Regions from separate parts of the Homo sapiens genome. Here regions 2 and 3 are each reported to be linked to region 1. The links are microRNA targets in miRTarBase. Many come from high-throughput screens and were not tested one by one. Region 1 holds a microRNA gene; each other region holds the end of a gene's coding sequence.

Region 1 (7,102 bases):
GTATCTGTGATTGTGAGAGAGAACATTAACAAGGAAGTGCATCTTCATTCAACAGCTACCTAAGGGAAGAATGCCGAGACAGCTCACTGCCCTTTCTGGGAGGGCAAAGAGAGTAGAGTTAGGGCAGGAAGGAACCACCCACTGCTTACCTGATCAGTGGGACTCCGTGTATACAGGTCTACATCCCTAGATGCCTGACCATCCTGGGGGACAAGGTGGGGTGCTTGGGGGGTGGGAACTAAAGTAAATTCATTCTCCAGTATCCCCAGCATGTGTGCACACCTGCACAGTGAGTACAAATGAGCTTTATCCTCCTATATGTGCTAGCTAGGCAGTACACTCAGGGGACTGTGGCTGTACTGTTCTCTTCTGGCTCCCTACAGGAGTAAATAATACTGGCAGGCAGCAGGAGAGGTAGGCGATGTACAAGGGCTCTGTCCTTCCATCTGCAGCTAAGGCTCACCCCATCTGAATCCCTGCCAAGGTGCATTGCATGTGGAGAGCACTAGTACCAGTATCAAGGATTAAAGAGAAGGAGCAAATGAGAAGGCTCAGGCACCTGTACCCCAAGGATAGCATGGGAGTTAGGAAAGAAAAAGCTCCCCTTTTCCAGCCCCTTGAACACATGAAGGCAGGCTGAATGGGAATGATGAACTGTGTTCTCTGGCACAAGCTCACCCCACAGTAAAACCAGGGTCCCTGATGCTCTTGCCACTATTGGATCCCCAAATCCAACAGGCATTCAAAAAGCTCTCTGAAAGGAACTAGGAGAGGTGACAGGCACTCTCTGCTCTGTGCATAACATACCATCTGTGAGTCCTAGCCCAGGTGTACTGCACTGGGACAGCACTTGCATGCGGATGCTACAGATTAAAGAGGCAGTGTCAGCATATGTACCCAACTCATATGTGACAAAGAGGGAAGAGAGGGCTCAGTCTCCTACTCCTCTTTCTCTCACACTTCACATGCAATGTATCAGTAAACTCAACTGGCTGTAACTTTAAAATATAACCACTTTTTACTACCTTCACCACGATCACCCTGATGTAGGCCTCCATCCATCTCTCAACTGAATTATTTCAATGGCCTCCTAACTGGTCTCCCAGTTTCTGCACTTTCTCCTCCTATTTGCCATACAACAGTCAGAACCATACTTGTGAAGCAAAGACACAGAAAACTGTAATCCTGATTTTGAATCAGAAGTATAATGGAATCATGATGTATTTATCTAGAAACAAGAAAACACAAAAACAAAACATTTTTCTGTTCTGATCATTGTAGAAGCCTAAATACAATGACCAATCCAGAGGCAAATATGGTCTTTAAATATCATGTCTGATTAAAAGAAACCAGGGCTTCTTGAAGACATGGCAGATTCCAGGCCTGGGGAAGGTATCTGCGATGAGCTTTGTACATTTTTTTCATCTCTGAAAGCGGAGAAGCTATCAGATAACTACGGAGGCATGTCAAAAGGACTGAGGAACCAATTTGAAGAAGCTCCTACTGGCTAAAGATGGGGCACTGGAGCTTCACTGAAGGCAAGAACTGCAATGGATTAAAAGTCCAAATATATTTAAATCTATGAGTTTATTATAATAGTTTTTTTAAAAAATCCTCTTTAGAGTAAGCTAGTGAACCAACTCATTATTCTGAGTACTGATAAATAAAGAGAACCAAACATTTATCCTATCTTGCCTATAAAGACGGCAACACTGGGTGATCAAATAGCAGATGAAGGGAAGTTTTTCTTTATAGAAGTATTCCAGCTAATAAATCAAGAGAATAATGGGATTAGAATATCATCATTTTGCAACCCCTAATGAAATAACGGCTCTAAGAATTGAGCATCGGTGGCAACTAACATCACAGAAAGATGATCATCAGTTATTTTGTGCCTCTTAATGGAAGTAGTTCTGCTCCCCCTTCCTCAAAATTAAGCCTGAATTTGATCAGGCTTCCAGATGCAACTATCAGTTTACAGGAAATACAAACAAGGAGAAGGAACATGTAAACTACATCACAGGGATGTGATCACAAAAATCCAGACTATGCAAAACTGTATAGGATGAATGGCCCACTTTCTTCCAACAAATAAATTATAAGGAAAGAAAAAATATAGATGGAAGGGAAAGATATAATTCAAAGGGACTTAAGATACATATCAACCAAATGCAATGCATGGACCTTATCTGGATCCTAATTTATGATATTTCTGAGACAAGTGGAAATGGGAACAACAGATATGTGATGATATTAAAAAATTGTTGGCAATTTTTTTTCTTTTTGAGATGAAGCCTCGCTCTTGTCACCCAGGCTGGAGCGCAGTGGCACGATCTTGGCTCACTGCAACCTCCGCCTCCCGGGTTCAAGCGATTCTCCTGCCTCAGCCTCCCGAGTAGCTGGGATTACAGGCACCTGCCACCAGGCCTGACTAATTTTTGTATTTTTAGTAGAGACGGGGTTTCACCATGTTGGCCAGGCTGGTCTTGAATTCCTAACCTCAGGTGATCTGCCTACCTTAGCCTCCCACAAAGTGCTGAGATTACAGGCATGAGCCCCTGTGCCTGGATGGTAATTATTTTTAAGTGTGATAATGGTATGATTTTTTTTTTAAAAGCGGCCTTAGATTTTAGAGATACATAGTAATTATCAGCTTTCCCTTTTTCCATTGTAACTTACTACTTCCCAGCCCTATGCTTCTGCCACAATGGCTCTTTGTTGTTCCTAGAACACAGTAGGCCTTTCCTGACTACCCTATTTGATATCGAAACTTCTCCACCACCATCTATGCTGTAACTACCCCCACCCACTCCTTGTCCCCTTTTCCTGCCTTATTATTCTCCAGAGCACTTATCAACAATTGGCACACTATCTATTACTTACTTATTTTGTTCACTACCTGCCTCCCCTCACTAGGGCAGGGATTCTTGTCTTTTGGTCACTGGTGTATCCCTGGTGCATAGGGGAGTACCCAACACACAGTAGCTGCTCGATAAATATTTGCTGAATGAATGAGTGGCTCACCAAATGAATCGGCTGCAAATCCTGGGTCTGGGGAGATAACAGAGAAAACTCACAATCTGACTCATATCTACATGAGTGTCTAAGAAGACAGATCTTCACACACCCTCTTGAGCAAACAAGTGTGCATATGGAAAGGCATGGCACAGTGAGTGGATTCTACTTTCTGAACCCAAAATGTGTGTGCATATTACATCTTTGCATATGGTTATGATATAGACACAATTTTCCTCACAAACTGGGTTTGTGAGAATTAGCTAGAAGACTCCCTTTTCATCATGCCCCATGTACAGGAGTCCTGAGAAGGTTCTCTCTCCTCCTCTAGGTGCCGCTAAGACAGAACCAGGTCAAAAGACCCCCCTTCCTTCTCTAGGCTGTGCCTATCCCTGAGTATGAGGGGCTGCACCATGTGCAAGAGAAAGCTAAGAGAAGTCTCCCTCTCCTGCAGGATCCATGTAAGACTGAGATGGGAGAAAGGACATGGCTGAGAGTCATTCTCCTTCCCACCACATGGGTGTGTGTTTTTCTTTTGGTGAAGGAGTGCGTATGTGTATATACACATGCACAAGAGAGCAAGGAAAGCTGAGGCTCGCCATCCTGCAAACCCTGCATGTGGGAGGGGTTTTCAGAAAGCTCACCCTCCACCATGCAAGGGATGTGAGAGAGGGAGCAGGGAAGGGCTTGCTCTCTTGGCACGACATATGGGTATGCTCTAGGAGGCAAGAGGCACTGGCCTGGGGGGTGCAAGTGGGCAGCAAGATAGCCACAGGAGTGCTGATGGGTAAACTAGGAGCAGTGGCCATGGAAGCAGGACAGTCATCCAGATGGGATGGCTGCTAACAGTGTACCCCACATACAGAGCACGTAAGAGAGGGTCTACCTCCCTTTGGTGTACCTGTCCATGTGCTCATGCCTATGCACTGGAGAGGGAAGAGAAGGCTCGCTCTTCTGCAAGCCTTGGGTGTGGGAGGGTAATTAAGATGCCAACGGTCCTACACTCAAGGCATGGAGGAGAGAAAGCAAGTCGGGAGGTCTGCTCTCCTGTATACTGTGTGCATGCGTATCCCAGATGCCTTGGACTTCTATGACTGTGCCCCAGACATGCTGTAATGAGAAGGTGTGCTTGTGTACATTCACATATGTACCTTCAGAAATGTTCACTATCTACAACATATTTGTTTTCCTTCCTTCTTTCTTTTCCTTTATTTTTATTCCTAACACCAGTATAGTATTTACATTTGCAGAGCACTGTTTTAAGTGCTTTTCACACATAGCTCATTTATTCTCATAAAATATCCATGAGGTGATCATTATCCCTATTTTACAGATGAAATAACACACATACGAGAACAGATGGTAAGAAAGCTTAGAATCTGGCATGCAGGTCATTAGAAAGAGGACTCAAAAAAGGAGGCTCAAGCTCTCAGCCACCAACCACTTTGTGTCCACACACACACCACACACACACACACACACACACACACACACACACAGAGAGAGAGAGAGAGAGACAGAGACAGAGACAGAGACAGAGAGACAGACAGACAGACAGACGCAAGAGAACTTGCACTTGTCAGCCCAGGGAAAAGCTGGATTAGTGTGGAAATAATAGAGGAAGTGAGAAGTATGAGAAGTGGCTGTGTGGTCAGATTAGACATGTATTTTGAAAGTAGAGCCAACAAGATTTGACAGCAGTTTGTATTTGGAGAATGGAGGGGAAAAAGTGTCAAAGATGAATCCAAAACCTTTAGCTTATTAAAATTCTCCATATCCTTGGCATATGCAATTGGGAAATGCTGTTTGCTGAGTTGGAGAACACAGAGGGAGGAGTAGGGCTTTTTGAGAGGGGGAGGAAAACCAGGACCTCAGCTTTGGATGTGTTAAAGTTTTGAGATACTTATTAGACATTCGGGGCAGATGTCCAGTACATAGTTGGACATAGGCATCTGGAATTCAGGAGAGAAGTCCAGGCTGGAAATACAAACACAGAAATCATCCACATAAAATGGTACTTAGAGTTGCAAGACAAGATGAGAACAGCTGAGGACTAATGAGAAGTTAAAAAAAAAAAAAGAAGTCTGAAGACTAAGCCCTATATCTCTTTAATACTTAGAATTCAGGAAGAGGAGGAGAAACCATCAAGAGACTGAGAAAGAGAGGCTTGTGAGGTAAGAAGACAACCTCATGAGTGTGGAATCCTGGAAAGCAGGTAGAGTCTCAAGGCAGAGGGAGTGATCAACTGTGTGTTGATCTGTCAAGTAAGATGACAACATTGCCCAGTAAATTGGGAAATGTGAAGGACACTGGGGACCTTGACCAGGGTCATTTAAGTGCTGCAGGTTACAGTTTTACATGGAGGGTTTTCAAGAGTAAATGGGACTAACATTTAAGTCTTTAATCCATCTTGAATTAATTTTTGTATAAGGTGTAAGGAAGGGATCCAAGGACAGAAAACCAAACACCACATGTTCTCACTCATAGGTGGGAATTGAACAATGAGAACACTTGGACACAGGAAGGGGAACATCACACATCGGGGCCTGTCATGGGGTGGGGGGAGGGGGGAGGGATAGCATTAGGAGATATACCTAATGTAAATGACAAGTTAACGGGTGCAGCACACCAACATGGCACATGTATGCATATGTAACAAACCTGCATGTTGTGCACATGTACCCTAGAACTTAAAGTATACATTTAAAAAAAAGAGTAAATGGGAGAAATAGAAGTAGAGATGGAGTACAATCAGCTCCTTCAAAAAAATTTTTTTTTTTTCTGTAAAGAGGAACAGAGAAATGAGTAGAAACTGGAGGAGCTTTTTGGGTAGAGAAGGTAGTGCTTTTTAATTTTTAAAATTATTTTTAGACAGGATATGTGGCAGCACATCTAGATATTGGTACAAACACTCCAGTATACAAAGAACAGTTGATGATGCAGTAAGGAGAGGGGGATCAATTGCAGGAGCACTGTCACTGAATAGGTGACAGGGGTTGAAATCTAGTATACAAGTGGAGGAACTGGTCCTGGCTACATGTGCCAGTAATTCATCTACCATAATGGGGAGGAGCTGACACTTAGGGACATGTGCAGGTAATGGAGGAGAGGTCAGAGGAACTTCAGAGGGTCCCTTCTGATGGCTTCCATTTTCTCAAGGAAGAAGAAAGCAAAGTCAGCAGCTGAGAGTGAGGAGGAAGGAAGGGAGGTGACACTGCAGATTTGAGGAAAGGAAAGAATTATGAAACAGTCATCCAAGGCAGTACTTCCCAAACATTTTCAAATAATGGGACCAAGCAGCTTAGGTGTGAGTTTTCTTCTATGGAGAATCAGTTGCTCCAGGCAAAGCATATGGATTAAGGAAGTTTATTACATGTTAATCCCAATACATGCGTCGCCTCCTTCAGTGCTTATTACAAACCTATATGGTTGGCACAATTAGTTATCTCATTTTCATGTTGTGGAAATTGAGACACAAGATAAGTCACTTGTCTAGGATCACAAAGCTCATTACAGATCACGCCAGGATTCTACCACAGGTAATCTGACTACCAAGACAGTGGGCCTAACCACTGAACCCTAAAGCTGTGTGTACCCACATGTGTATGAGAACTGAAAATGATAAGGACCCACTTTCTGGCACATCCTTGGCACACACATGTGAGATGAGGGAGGAAAAGGAAGAGAGAAAGAGCAAGGATGGAGAATAAGGAGGCTCAAGCTCCTATCATAAATGTGTGTGGGGGCATGCACAGAAAAGGGGTAATAAGGTGGCTGACACAGTGGTTCACACGCCACTGTGGCCCAGCCAGTGTGTGCATTGGGAGGTTGTAATAACCTCCCAATTGGGAGGTCAGTTTTATTTTAGGTTAAGCCATGCGTGGGGTAGGAGAGTGGCAGCAATAGAAGGCTCACAGTCCTGCGATGCTGGATGCAATGGGGCAACTCAGGTGTCTCCCTTACATGCATATCATGAGTGTATGCACATGAGAGAAAGAAAGAGAAAAGCAGGATTAGAGAGAGAGGCTGCAAGCAGGAGGCGGATGGGGAAACCCACAGTCCAACAGGTTTGGGGAAGCATATTTAA
Region 2 (7,102 bases), not on the chromosome of region 1:
TGTTTCTCCACATCAAAATCAACGCCCATACCACACATATGCCCTGAAATAGTGTCCAGCTGATGAAACCTCCTTGGAGAATGAAGAACTGAGAATGTTATTTACCGATTTTTTCTTTCTGATGTATATAATATGAATATCTTCACTTCGATACTCTTCATCATGTTTTTCCAAAGGAATTTTTTCAAAGTCAAAATCTAGCTGAAGGAGCTATAAATTTAAAAGAGACATACTTCAAATTCAATAATATGAACTGACCTGTGGGTGACAGAAGTCAGAATGCTGGTTACTTTTTTTTTGAGAGTCTCACTCTGTCACCCAGGCTGGAGTGCAGTGGTGCGATCTTGGCTCACTGCAACCTCCACCTCCCTGGGTTCAAGTGATTCTCCTGCCTCAGCCTCCTGAGTAGCTGGGATTACAGGCAAACGACACCACACCCAGCTAATTTTTGTATTTTTAGTAAAGAAAGGGTTTCACCATGTTGACCAGGCTGGTCTCGAACTCCTGACCTCATGATCTGCCCATCTCGGCCTCCCAAAGTGCTGGGATTACAGGCGTGAGCCACCGCGCCTGGTCAGTGGTTACCTTTTGAGTATTGCCTGGGAAAGGGCAGTGTGCAAACCTTCCAAGATCCTGAAAATGTCCTCTATCTTTATGTTGGTAAGTAGTTACTTGGGTGTATACATATGAAAAATTAAGCTCAGCACTTGACTGATACATATGCATTTTACATATGCTTTACCCCAATAAAAGCTGTTTAACAGTACGAAATTTTCATTATGCATCATTTCAAAAGTTCATGAACATTTTTCATATTCAAGAAAAACATGAAAATAAACAAACATTTTAGTATTTGTTACCTGAGGCAGTCATATACCTGCTTTCTCATTAAACCAAAGTAGTCCTTCCAGCAGACAAAACTGCAGGCCTATATAGATGTACCCTCAAAAGGAGTCACTCACAATGTGATAGATTTGTGCCCATATAAGGGTTTGGGTGATCACTAGGGGAAGAAGAGTGACAGATACATAAAACCCTATATACTATATTTTGCAACTTCCTGTAAGTCTTTTCTAACTATTTCAGACAAAAAGTTTAAAAAACAAAAAAAAAGACCCTAAAAATAGACAGGTATCTAGGTTGGAGGTTTCATAAATATGTAGAGAAAAACACAGAAGTAAAAACTTATCACTTGGCAACATGGGAAAACCCCATCTCTACAAAAAAATACAAAAAGTTAGCCGGGTGTGGTGGTACATGCCTATAGTCCCACTTACTTGGGGGCGGGGGGGGGGGGGGGTGACACTGAGGCAGGAGGATCACTTGAGCCCAGGAGGTTGAGGATGCAGTGAGCCCTGACTGTGCCACTGCACTCCGGCATGGGCTACAGGGTGAAACCCTGTCTCAAAACAAAAACAACTTATCACCTGCACATTTCTATCACGTATTCTCCAAAGGTAATACATACATCATTGAGATGTTCCCCAAAGGCAGCATCATGTTTAATAAACACTGAAAACTGTTCTTAAAAAGGAGTGGCACCCGTATTAACATTCTTCTGTAGCCATAGATCAACTAATTAGAAATGAAATAAAGTATCAGAAAAGATGAAAAAGGGGAGCTTCGTAGAATCATGGGCTGTGAAGATCCTTTCCTCAGCTTCACACAAACAGCATGTTTTCCCCACCCAAAATTACCATAATATACTTGAAGAGTCACATACAGCCCCCCTGAAGGGAAATCACTACAAAGATAATAGAGTACTTAATACTTACCTCAAAATATTTTTTCTCAATTTCTGGATTTTTCCCCATTGTTCGTTGTTCATAACAACATATAATACAAGTTTCAAATCCGCTGATATCTTTTAGAGTTTTCAGCAATGGCTCCAAAGACTATTTAAAAAAGAATATATTTTTTGTTTTTGATTTAAAAATTTTTCTACTCTAAAAGTAGGTTGAGGAGGTACAGGGGTATTTATAGCTCCCCTACAATTTATCCATCTTTGAATCAATCCAACAAAGCACATGTAATTAAAGCTCTAGGCTAGGTGCAGTGGCTCACACCTGTAATATCAACACTTTGGAAGGCAGAGGTGGAAAGATCGCTTGAAAGCAGGAGTTGAAGACCAGCCTGGAGAATACAGCGAGAGACAAACCACCCCCCGCAACACCTTACAAAAAATTTAAAAATTAGCCAGCATGCTGGTGCACACCTATAGTCCCAGCTATTGAGGAGGCTGAATGGGAGGATTACTTGAGCCTCAGGAGCTCGAGGTTACAGTGAGCTATGATCACTCCACTGCACTACAACATGTGTGACAGAGCAAGACCCCTATCTTAAAACAAAAACAAACAAACAAAAACCCCTCTGTAACTAATGATTGGGTAAGCTCCTGTTAACTAAACCATGTACTGATTTTGGTTTCCAGAAAAAGGATTCAGATGACTGCATTTTGGAGTTCTCATGGGAAACAAATGGAATCAACCTTACTCTTAAAAGTTTAATTTTATTTAATCTAATTTGGGATTTAAATAATCAACGATTTCCCTACAAAAGTTAAATCTGACCCTAACTTGGTTCAATGCTAATTATTTTTAAAATAATCGATGCCCACAACACTATACAAACTGATGTTTTTTTTTTTTTTTTTTTTTTTTGAGACAGAGTTTTGCTCTTGTTGCCCAGGCTGGAATGCAATGGCATGATTTCGGCTCACTGCAACCTCCGCCTCCCAGGTTCAAGCGATTCTCCTGCCTCAGACTCCCAAATAGCTAGGATTACAGACATGCACCACCACGCCTGGCTAATTTTGTATTTTTAGTAGAGACAGGGTTTTGCCATGTAGGTCAGGCTGGTCTCGAACTCCCGACCTCAGGTGAGCCACCTGCCTTGACCTCCCAAGTGTTGGGATTACAGGCGTGAGCCACCGCGCCCGGCCCAAACTGGTATTTAAAGAAAAGAACAATGAATTATTTATAACTTAATTCTCAATGTCATGGTTAACATGTTCCGTGGGAACAACCAAGGGAAAAAGAGAGGATTTTGGCTTTTCATAACATCCAATTGGCAAAATCCTTTAAAATTTTTACAGAAGCCTCTAGTAAAATGCATATAACACTTTTCTCAACATGCTTCACCAGGTCGGTATGATAATGATGAGCGTATATACATATGGTCCCTGGTGACTTTTATCTTCTCTTTACTGCATCAACTATAAGGCAAATCCCGGATTCAAAGATGTTAAAATGTGAAGAAACGTGTGCTTTAGAATTCATGGAATAAGGTTCATCTTCTAAGTGAAGAGACTTCGCTCACTGGATACTTACCTCTTCATAGTATATGCAGTCGGCCATCAGTATGAAGTCGGGTGGAGAAGGAAAGCCTTCTATTTCTTCCCCCCTTAAAAATGCCAAACAAATATTTCAATTGTTTTAATAATTCAAAATACTCTTGTTTTATAAAGAACCGGAAAGTCCCCTTCCATCCTTTTAATGAAACGCAATTCAAAACAAACTACAAATCAATATCTTAAAACAAGCTGAAAGGCCATACAAACCATTTCAGTACCTTGGCTTGAACAGAACCAGTGACAAGATGCTTGTTCATATTAATATTCATCTTCAGCAAGTCTTGCAATTCCTCAAGATCGGTGACTACAACATCAGCCCTATAAAATAACGTCGACTGAGGTGTAGGCACAGGGGGGAAAGCCTGTAATCCGGATTTCCCCAGCAAGAAGGCGCCCCCACATCCCGCCCGCCCGCCAGCTCTTACCCGAGGGTAGCAGCCATGAGCCCCACGGCCCCGGTGCCCGAACCCAGCTCCAGCACCGACCGCCGGCTCAGCGCGTGGGCCCCGTCGCCAGAAAACTCGGGCGTTTCCAGGTATTTAGAAAGGACAATGGCAGCGTCCCACACAACGCAACCCACGCCACCGGAGCTATACTGCTGTAGTCGTAGCACTGTACCATCCCGCTTCTCCAAAACTCGCACAAAGCTCCGCAGTGGGTCCTCCAGCGAGGACTCCAGCGTATCCGCCATTGCGCCCGGCAACAGAAAGCGGCGCGCGCAGGGACGTCACATCAACGCGCACCGCCCCGCCCTGCGGCTCCGCCCCCTGCCCGCCGCTGAGTTGGCGACGCAGCGCGCGCGAGTTAACAAAGCCCGGAAGGCAGCGTTACCTGGGCGGGGCCGAGCGTGGGGCCCCTGCTTACCCGACGCGCTTGGCAGCCTCCCTCTACCCTAAATCACACGTTTGGCTTAACGAAGAGGCCGTTTAAATCACTTTCCCAGACAAAACTATTATAATCTGCTCTTTAAAAAACAAAGCCAACCTCAGAGTTTACCAAGTTGGACACTTGATTTACATAGTAGTTACAAGGCTTAAATGCAATCAGCTTCCAAGATCCTACCAAAGATGGCTATAATCTTACAATCTTCCTTTTCAAGTTCCTAGTATGCTCCTAGTTTTTTGTATGAATTCATAAAAGTGGTTGCTAGAAGCCTGCAGCTCACATTTAACAGTGAAGAAAAAATTGTGTGTGTGTGTGTGTGTGTCTATAGGACTCAACAATCTCCCCCTTTGTTCCTTATAATGAAAACACATATTTTAAAAGTCTTTTAAAAATTAAGACTGGGGTGATTTATTAATCTTGTTAAGAACTCTGATACAAAGCACAGTAAAAGGCCACAAACCAGTAAATAAACAACGTGGCTTTTGGCTACTTTACAACTGCTGCTACAGCACTATCAGCAAAACACTCTATCACTTTGAACGAAGGCATCCAAATGGCAAATAAAAGCTTTACTCACTTATCTGATTAAAATGTTTAATAAAGCTTTAAGTATTTGCTGGTTTAAATATTACCAATCTAAAAAATATATTTAAAAAAAATTTCAGTTAACACGAGATTTATAGAGAAAGTTACTAGGTCTTGAAGGCAAGGCAGTTGGTTCCTATGCCATAGAATTTTTTTTGAATTTATGAATTAGTAAAGTAGCAGATTGTATTATAGGCCTCAAGTCACTTAAATTTATATAGGTTATTAGCAGTATCTTTAAATATACAATATAAACAAAACTGTACATACATGGCATATTAACTGTTTTCCATAACAATAGGCAATTCATTAGCTAAAGACGTCATAGTCTGCAAAAACAAAAGGCACATCTGAATGAGATACATGCCCTTTTTCCCTCCATCATTGGGTTATGTAGTCTTTGTTTACATTTTGACAAAATAATAAACACTTACAGTGCCATTCTATTATTTTCATCCTACTTTTCATTTTTGTCTTCAGCAGCAAATACCGGCATTTAAGACATGGCATTAAAGAGTTTAAGAACAGTTGGTGTTATTCACAATTCTCCTAGATGTAAAAACTAGAAGTAAAAACTAGAAGATGGTCAAAGAGGTTTAAAAATCAGTAACACCATATACCCCTCCCATATTTGTGTAAATTCACTGCCTTAAAAAGGCATCTATTACTCAAATTTGAAAAATTTCACAAAAGCACTATCCCTTTTCAGTGCAATCATGTCACTTTAAACCATATTTTTGCAGAGTTTACAGTGCAAATATAAATTCTTTATACTGGCCTTTTGGCAGCACTGAGGATCCAAGACAAGGCAATGCTACTGATCACCTGAGGATAATGGTGAAGGACTTTTGTATTTTTATTTTTCCAATTCTTAAAAGCTTATTTGATCAGTAGCATTTTTGTAAGAGCATTATTTGTAAAAAGTACTAAAATACTATGTCTTTTTTTGAATAAATTAAAAAAAAAACTTTACAAATACCATTCCAGTGTCAATGACTACATATGGCTAAGGTCATTGGGGAGTTTCTGCATTTTCTAGCAAAGGCAGTCTGTACAATGGGGGGTGCGAAAGCTCCCGTTTGTAAGTCTTTGGTGGCAGTTTTGGCAGATGAGGGCTTGAATTCTGCCTTGGTGGAACAGGGGGAGCTGGAGGATGAGCAAGATTATTCTGACTAGAACTGAGCACATAGCATCGACGCGGTACCCTTGGAGAGGGTGTGCTAGGAGGAGTGCTTGGCGAATTTGGACACGTACTAATGTCTCTGAGCCAGTCTGAATCTCTGTGAAGATGCCCCAGTGGAGGTGGCTGAAGATTAAATGGACAGTTTATAAAGTGTTCTGGAGGCCGAAGGGGAACTGGTGGAGGGGTATCAGGAAGAGGATCTCTTGGTGGTGGCGGAGGTGGACTATGCAGAGGCCCATCAAATGCACCAGTAGGAACAGGAACTCTGGGTTTTACCTTTGGAGGAGGAGGCTGTCTCGGTGGAATAGCAGGAGGATCATCATCAGATTTCATATTTCCCTCAAAAAAAAAAGTAATTAAATTATACCTCTATTCTGAAAAATTAAAAAAAAAAATTTTTAAGTCTGAAAAATTCTTACTTGTCAAGTTAAATTCAGAGGCTCAAAATAAACTAATCTGGGTTAATTATCAGATTATGAGTACTCCTAGATTAATTCAGGGCTGGGTTTAATATTTTTATATATGAGATGTTTTAATTTAAGTCTTAGGTCCTAACTCTTTATCTTGCTTTGTGTATACATTTCAGAAATTTATGTATTTTAATTATAATAGTAGGTAAGTGACAATAATTTATTGCTTTATAGACATGAAAGGACATGATGTCTAGAGGACTTTAATGTCTAGCTTCTGCTTACTGGGCATCTACTGCTACTTTCTCCAGTGAGGCTTAGAGCAGTAGATCTCAAAGTGTGATCCAGAGACCAACAACATCAGCATCAGTAGGGAACTTGTTAGAAAAGCAAATTCTTGGGCCCCATCCTAGACTACTGAATCAGAAACTCTGGAGGTGTGGCTCCACAGTCTGATTTTACCAAGCCTTTCAGGTAATTCTGATGCACCCTTAAAATTTTGAGAAGCATTAGTTGAAAGTTTGAAGAATACTTGGAATACTACTGAAGTTTTTTTCCACCTGTACCAGAAAGAAAATGTACTTCCAGCCTCTTTTTTATTTTTTTATTTTTATTTTTAGTTTTTGAGACAGAGTCTTGCTCTGTCGCCCAGGCTGGAGTGCAATGGTGCGATCTTGGCTCACTGCA
Region 3 (7,102 bases), not on the chromosome of region 1:
TGCCTTTGTTCAACACAGCAAGCACACATTACCCAACAGAACTCTGCCAGATATGGGAAAACCTATGGCCTATGCTCTGCAGGAGGCTACAGTCTGGAGGAAGGGGTGAATGTTAGCCTGGGACAGGGGGCGCAATATCAAGGCACTGGGCCCTGGGCCCAGGAGAGGAAGGAGAAAGCTGCCAGGCATGGGTCAGAGAAGGCTTTGTGTGGAGCTACGCCCTGGAACATGAGTAGGCGTGGGCCAAGCCGAGAGGAGAGAGGGCAGGGTGGGTCAGGTCATCTACCATGTTATGAGGACTCTAAGATCCTTGAGCCAGTGGGAGGGGATGAGGATTAGGGCTCATCTGGGGATTGGGGATGAGGAAGGAATGGGTGACCAGATTGGAGATGCAGGCATATGCCACCTCAGGGACTGCCTGTGTGCCCAACTCAGCATACCCTGTGTGCCTGTGGGTATGGGAACAAAATTCTCCCAAACGCCTGCTTCCAGCTTTGTGCCGTTGCGTTTTCTTTAGGCAGATGTTGTTAGCTGTCACTGCACTGACCTCTAAGGCCACCCCAGCCTCCATGAGTGAACGCCCATGCCTTCACCCCTCCTGTCTGTGGGGAGGAACCCCACCCCCTTTCCTCCAGCAACTCCTACACATCGCCTCCAGGCCTTCCCAGCACCATTCCCTCACCAGGAATGTTCTTTGCCCTTCTTCACTTAGTTCATTCCTATGCATTCTGCAAAACTTAACTCTGCCACACTTTTCTGACCTGTCCCCTCCCAGGCTGGTGAGGGAGAGCAGATCATCCTGTCTGTCTCCCTGCGGACAGGAACGGAAGGTGCCCACTGGTCACCTAATGCATTGCAGTGACTACTTGTGGGATCTGGTGACTATTGCAGGGACAAATGAAGGACCCTGAAGTGCCTGCCTGTCCCTCCACCCCAACCTCTCTGTGGCTTCTTTTGCTGTGCGTCTAGCTGGGTGCAGTGTCCCATTGCTCGACGGTTCCTCGTTGGCGTCTGCTTTCCAAGTCCTCCCTGGATGCCTCTTCTATGCACCTACTGAATCAGTGGGCTGTGCTCTCTTTCACACAGTGACACTTCTGGCTGAGAAGTCACTAGTAACCCCCCACCCTCTTTCATCACAGCCAGTGGGCCCTAAAGCTGACCCTGTGTTTGGCCCAACCCACCTTCCACTTTGCCTCTCATGACTGAGCCTTGATTTATGCCCAGGTGTTCTCAAGCCCACACTCTGATAGCTGCCCCTCTGTCAGACTCTGCCTCTTACAAAAGGCCCTTCTCTTATCCATCTCTGACTCTCAGGCCAACACCTGTCCTACTTCCACTCACTGACCTTCCCTGACCAATCCAGGCGATGATCACTCCCTGCCCTCAGAAGCCTGCCACACCACTCATTGGGCAGGTAATTTCATGTTCTCCATGGGGTCATTCTGTGTTCCTCTGTGTGCACCGTGCCTGGCACAGAGCAGGGGTGCAAAAATATTTGTTGACTGAGTGTGCAAGTGTGATCTCTTTCTCCTGGCAAAGTTTCCTGAAGGTAGAGGCCGTGTACTCTCTACTGCACAGCTGACTTTATGCCCAAAGCTAGTCTGCCAGATATATTTGTGTATTGGCAGCTTAAAACGACCAATCTGGTACCAGCCCCTTTAAGTGAATTGACTATACACAGATGCACACAGACAGACAGACAGAGAGACATACACACACACACACACACACACGAGACATAGTTGTTTTGTTTTTAAACCCAATGCATAAGACCCAGGAGCTCTTTGGAAATCAAGAGAAGAACTCTCTGTGGTGATGGAAATGTTTTATATCGACTCTATCCTATATGGTAGCCACTAGACACACATAGCCATTGAGCACTTGAAAATTGTGGCCAATGTGATTGAGGAACTGCATTTTTAATTGCATTTAATTTAAATTAATTTAAATGTAGGTAGCCCCATGAAGCTAGTGGCTGCCCTCCTGGACTGGCAGTTCTGGACCACTCCCAGTTCACCTGCTCTAACCTCTGCCTCTCACTCTCTCCCTTCCAGACCCCTGAGCCCCTTCCAGTGCTGCCTGAGGTGCCCTCTACCTGTGCCTGCCTCTCGTCTGCCAGTTTGATTTGGACCTGTTTTTCCCACCTCAGCCCCCATGCTCTTGTCAAACGTGTTTGGCCTCCAGCCAAACAGGGCCTGGGAGGAAAAGAGAGTCCTGCTTCTGCCTGGCTTCCCCATCGGGGAGGGGAGTTGAAGTGACAGCCTCCTGACAGCTTAGAAATGTGGAGGACGCAGCAAGTTCTGGACATGGCCAGCCATATGAATGATATCTTCTCTTTCTTTGAACCATCTCCACCTGCTCTTATGGACACCCCGCCTTGGGGCAAGGCAAGGTAGGATCTTGACATATGACTAGCTCTTGGGAATAAGGCCATGGAAGTAAGGCAGACACATGGGGTGATTTCATCAGCCTTATTATCCTTAGATAACTGTTTATCTTAGGTTATCCTTAGATAAGTTATTATCCCTAGATAAAATGAAGCCCATTTTAATAGAAAATGAAACAAACAGACAAGATGATGACATCCTTTGTATGTTTACTATAATAACAGCAAAATTTTTCCAAACCAGAGCCAATTTCCTTGGCTCTAGGTACACCCCTTCCAAGCAATGCAAAGGACATCTCCAATCATGACATTTAAGACAATTCTTTATTTCTCTGACAGTGACTTCTTGAAGTGCACATATAATAAATAAATAGAAAATATATCTTTGTTCATGGTGATGCCTACAAGAAATGTTTACATACAAACACTCTATACATCTAACTCCCGAAAAAGGACCAGCTATTTCGGCAACAGAAAAAAGACAAGCATTTCAGAGGAGCGTTGCTTTCCTTAAAGACCTAACTCACTTAAGTCTTACAAACAGAAATAACAAGGAGGACAATTTTCTAAGCAATAAGAAAATTTGTGCTACCAAGAAAATGCCTAGATATTGGCTCTTGGTGAATGGTTTAGGAAAGAAACTTTTATGTACAGATCCTGTACTGTGAAACATATGTACAACTCTGAGAACTTTCAAATAGATATCTTTTTTAAATGAACTGAGCCAAAGACATTCAACATTCCTGGCCACCTGAAAGTGATCACATCCTAAGTGGTTCACAGTGTGAGACCCTTGCATTAGAAGAGTGAAAACTCAACAAAACCGTGGACAAGAAGGACATGAGGTCATTTTAACTCTCCTCTCCATCACCACTAATCTCCCTGGAAGAAGTCCTTCCTGTGACTCTGGCCTTTGAAGCAGCCATATCTTTAAAAGCAGAGCCCTATGGTCACCTCCCAGCAGCTGAAAGATGTTTGGTGGGAAAGACCTCCCTGACAGTTGGCTCCCACCTGGGGAATGGACTCTTGGACCGAGTCTCATGGGTGCAGTTGGGTGGAGGGAGCCAGGCAGGCCCTCTTTGAAGGAAAGAGTTTGTGGTTGGGGCAGGAAAGGGGATAAATGTAGTTCATCACAAGACCCAGGGAGACTCTGGTGCCTCGTGCAAGATTATAAACCACAGATAGAGTTCTCCCTCTTACAGGAGCTCTTTGGGCTCTCTATAAGGTGGGCCAGGGAGAGAGCAGGGCATTAAGCAGCAGCTGAAAGGGACTGGGGTGGACCCAATAGCTGTTCAGACACCCAAGATCAGCCAAATTGGCTCACCAGAAACATGGCGAGCCCTACTCCCTCTGCTGGGCCTCACCTGTAGAGCTGCAGAGACAGGAGAGCCAGGTAGCACCAATGGGGAGTTGCAGCTACTGTGCACCCAGGCTGGGCTGACAGGTAGTGAACAAAGTGAAGGCCACAGGGACCGCCAACACCAAGGGGAGGGCGGGTTTGTGTGCGCTGGGAGCAGGAGGGAAGAGATCTGCTAGCTGTCATTCTACTCTAGTCATTTCCTTTCCTTCGAGGGGACTTGTCCCCATTTCCAGAAGCTACCTCAGGAGTGCCTGGGCACTCTGGGGCCGGTTGTTGAGGCAATGTGGTGTGGCAGCAAGGGCTAGGGTGGGGCTCCCCAGGCCCTCCCTTAGCTGTGTGGTTCTTTCCCATCTTGGGGGCTCACTTTCCCCATCTGTTAAAATGAAGGCTTTGGGCTAGATATTTTCTATATTTCCAGCTCTGAAATCCCAGGCCGAGGGAGTACGAGCACATCTAGGGTCTCCTGGAGGCCCCCTGTGCTCAGTTCCCTGGATGAAGAGCAAATGAGGCCCTAAGGCAGGAGCTCACTTCTGTGGACTTCACCCTCTTGGAGTCAGAGGCAGGGCTGCCTGGGGACTGAATTCCTCTGTGCTCATAAGCAGCAAAGCCCATTGCTCCCCTCTGACCACACTTCTCCATCATGAGTGGGCCAGAGAGACGTGAGCAAAGGGCGACCCCGTAGTCACCAGCTTCAGCAGGCAGCGGCAGGGAGGGCTGAATCCCTGAGCCATTCCAGAGGCTGCCTCATCTCCCCCCAGCAAAATGCCCCCAGCCTTCATTCCTGTAAGCAAGAAGCCTTCCTGAGCCTCCCCTCTGAAATGGCACTGGCCTCCATTTTACCTCTCTGTGATTTCTCCACCTGGCATTGCAGTGCACATGGACCTGACTGCCTGCCCTACTGGACTGCAGACCCCTCAAGCTAGGCATTAGTTCTCACCTCTCCATCCCGTGTGCGCTGGGGCACCCAGCATCATGGATATCAGTGGATATCCATGAACTGTTGGGTTCCAGGTACCATGTGAAATGCAGCAGATTTCTGGAATCTCAGAACTAAAAGGGCCTTTGAGAGTCATCTAGTCCAAGTCCAAACCTGCCACTCAAAGTCTCCTGAAAGGTGGACACGGCCAGAGGCAGGGCTTGCCTCTTCCCCAAGGATAGCCAGTTCTACCCCAGCTCCTAATCCTGTGAGGTTGGCTCTTGCTTACAGGAGTAAAGATTTCCTTAAGGCCAAGGCTCTTTCTCCTACATTTACCACCCTCACTTGTCTGCTGAAGACCATGGGGATCTGTGAATGACCAGCCCTCCAGACTACCTCCTAGCTGGGTCAGGGCTCCTGCCAAAGTGGATCTTTGCTGTCAGCACAACCCAGGTCTCCTGATATGGTCCCCAAACCCCCACTGAAGAGGCACAGATAGGAGAGAAGCACCCAAGAGGCTGCAGGAAAGTGAATGTTTCCAGCATTGGCCAGCACCGCCCCAGGGGCTCCAGGTAGACACTTGAGTAGGGGCAGGTGGCAGCACCAGGGTCTCTGATAGCCTTCCCTTGGCCCATCAGGGCTGAAACACGGCCTTCCCAGGCAGCTGCTGGCAGGGGCTGGGGGACCCAGCCATCCCCCACTGGTCTGCTGCCAAGAGTCACCGTCATAGTCTACCACGAGGTGGCACCGGGCGGCAGCTGTCCTCACAACTTCTTCTTCTTCACCACAGGGATGGGCACAACTTGGAAGATTTTGGCTTTGTGATCCTCAGTGTCCAGTGTCACCCAGATGGGCCGGAAGCTGCCTTTGAAGCCAACGAATGCCATTTGCTCTGAAAAGCAATGATGAGTCTCCTGAGCAAAAGCCCTATGAGAGGACGGCTGCCCCACCCCGTTCCATGGCTCCCCATCGCCAGCCCCCCACGCCCACCAGGTACCGCCTAGCCACACTGCACTGTGGCCCCTTGGGAAGAGCTCTGTGCTCAGCTACTGATGGTGCCTGACATGTGTTTGTATGGGGCAGGCAGGGTCTCACCTGAGCCTCACTGCCACCTAGGCAGGGTGATGGCTTTGTTGTAGACAGGGGAGCCATGCACAGCAGGAAATGGGGCAAACTGTAAGGGAGGAGACCTCCTAGGAACCTGCCTACCTTTGAGCTGCCCCTAGGACAACCAGCAAGTCCCTGCCCCTCTCTGAAGCCCAGTGTTCCCATCCATCAAATGATGGCATTGATCTACAAGATCTCCTTCCCCACTCTATCACTCTGTGGCTCTAGAAAGAGTTCTGAGAGGTGAAGAAATTTGACCAAGAGTGTGGAGTAAATGGTGCACCCCAGATTAGAACTCTAAACCCCTGAAACCCACACAGCACTCTCCATCTTGCAGTTCACAGCTTGAGCATCCGAGGGGCATGGGAATCCACGTCTATACTCAGCCCATCTTGGCAGGCAACATGCATTTATCACCACCGGGAAAGTGCCATTCAACTTAGGTCACCTTACATACATCAGCTTTTGGCAACCGGGATCTTAATTTAAAAGACAGAGGCTCCAAAATGATTTCAGGACTGGGCTGGAAAGGATACTTCTCTTTTCCTTATGTCCTCCTTTGGCTGGTTTGAAGGGTTTGCATTGCTTCTGATTTTTCTCATTGCCCCATATGATGGGTTTCTGATTTTGATGTTTTCCATAGTGAGGATGGTGTATAACTAAGAAGCCCAGCTTTGAGTTAGGAAGATTAGGATCCAAGTCCTAACCTTAAGCAAGTGGCTTGGCTGTTAAATTCTTGGTGTCCTCATCTTAAATGGAAATAATAGTACCTGCTGCACAGGTTATTAATGAGTAAGTGAGATAATTATAACATGTTGTGCAAAGTGCAAGGCTGAACATTGAATAGCAACCACAATGATCATTATCATTATTGCCCGTGGAGCTTCTCTGCCGCCCATACAGCCTCTCTGAGGACTCTCCCTGCACCTAGTTTTTGTGATGATAATGGGTGTCATGCTGACATGTCCCTCCTGGATGGCTTCTTCCAGCACAGCCAGCAAGCCTGTGCTAGGCTTCACCACCGAAGCTGCCTGGCCTTGGACAAGCCATGTAGGTTCTCTGGGCTTTAGTTTTCTGGAACAAATAAGAGTTTTGCAAGCTGCAAAGGACTGTACAAACGCTAGGCATCAGCTAGAATGTTGAAGAAGATGCAGGACCCCTGGCCAGTCTGAATAGCAGGAATTGGGTAGGAGGGTGAGACTAAGCCACTTTTCTTATGATACTTTTGTTGAATAAAGGGCCACTTTCCAAGCAAATGAGTCAACAAATATAGCAATTTTCTTTCAGTGGCTGGTGGCAAGTTATAATAAATTTGCTGCAGTGCAGGGGTGGT

What was found. Region 1 holds the annotated microRNA hsa-miR-188-5p (CAUCCCUUGCAUGGUGGAGGG, at 3,659-3,679, opposite strand). A microRNA usually pairs through its seed, bases 2 to 8, with sites in the 3' UTR of a target mRNA and lowers its output. Matches are read on the target gene's strand: a 7mer-m8 pairs with bases 2 to 8, a 7mer-A1 pairs with bases 2 to 7 and ends in A, and an 8mer does both.
Region 2: miRTarBase lists SOS2 as a target of hsa-miR-188-5p. Seed matches in the 3' UTR shown: 8mer at 5,519-5,526.
Region 3: miRTarBase lists CEMIP as a target of hsa-miR-188-5p. The part of its 3' UTR that is shown has no 7-base or 8-base seed match.

The regions. Positions count from the first base shown.
Region 1 is chrX:50,000,094-50,007,195 of GRCh38, reverse strand. It overlaps MIR188 (microRNA 188), which reads right to left and starts at 3,693; the gene lies at 3,608-3,693. The region is part of intron 3 of CLCN5 (chloride voltage-gated channel 5); the gene reads right to left. MIR532 (microRNA 532) reads right to left here and starts at 4,048; the gene lies at 3,958-4,048.
Region 2 is chr14:50,112,510-50,119,611 of GRCh38, forward strand. SOS2 (SOS Ras/Rho guanine nucleotide exchange factor 2) reads right to left here. Exons shown (of 23, transcript NM_006939.4): 23 at 4,621-6,344. The coding sequence ends at 5,835. It overlaps VCPKMT (valosin containing protein lysine methyltransferase), which reads right to left and starts at 4,063. Exons shown (of 6, transcript NM_024558.3): 1 at 3,778-4,063; 2 at 3,560-3,670; 3 at 3,330-3,402; 4 at 1,776-1,895; 5 at 106-210. The coding sequence starts at 4,043. RefSeq lists an enhancer at 4,000-4,059.
Region 3 is chr15:80,947,249-80,954,350 of GRCh38, reverse strand. It overlaps CEMIP (cell migration inducing hyaluronidase 1), which reads right to left. Exons shown (of 30, transcript NM_001293298.2): 30 at 2,580-5,554. The coding sequence ends at 5,427. It also overlaps a transcript of MESD not described here. Among named protein-coding and RNA genes, the nearest start is that of MESD, 39 kb to the left of the region's middle. RefSeq lists enhancers at 1-722, 723-1,695.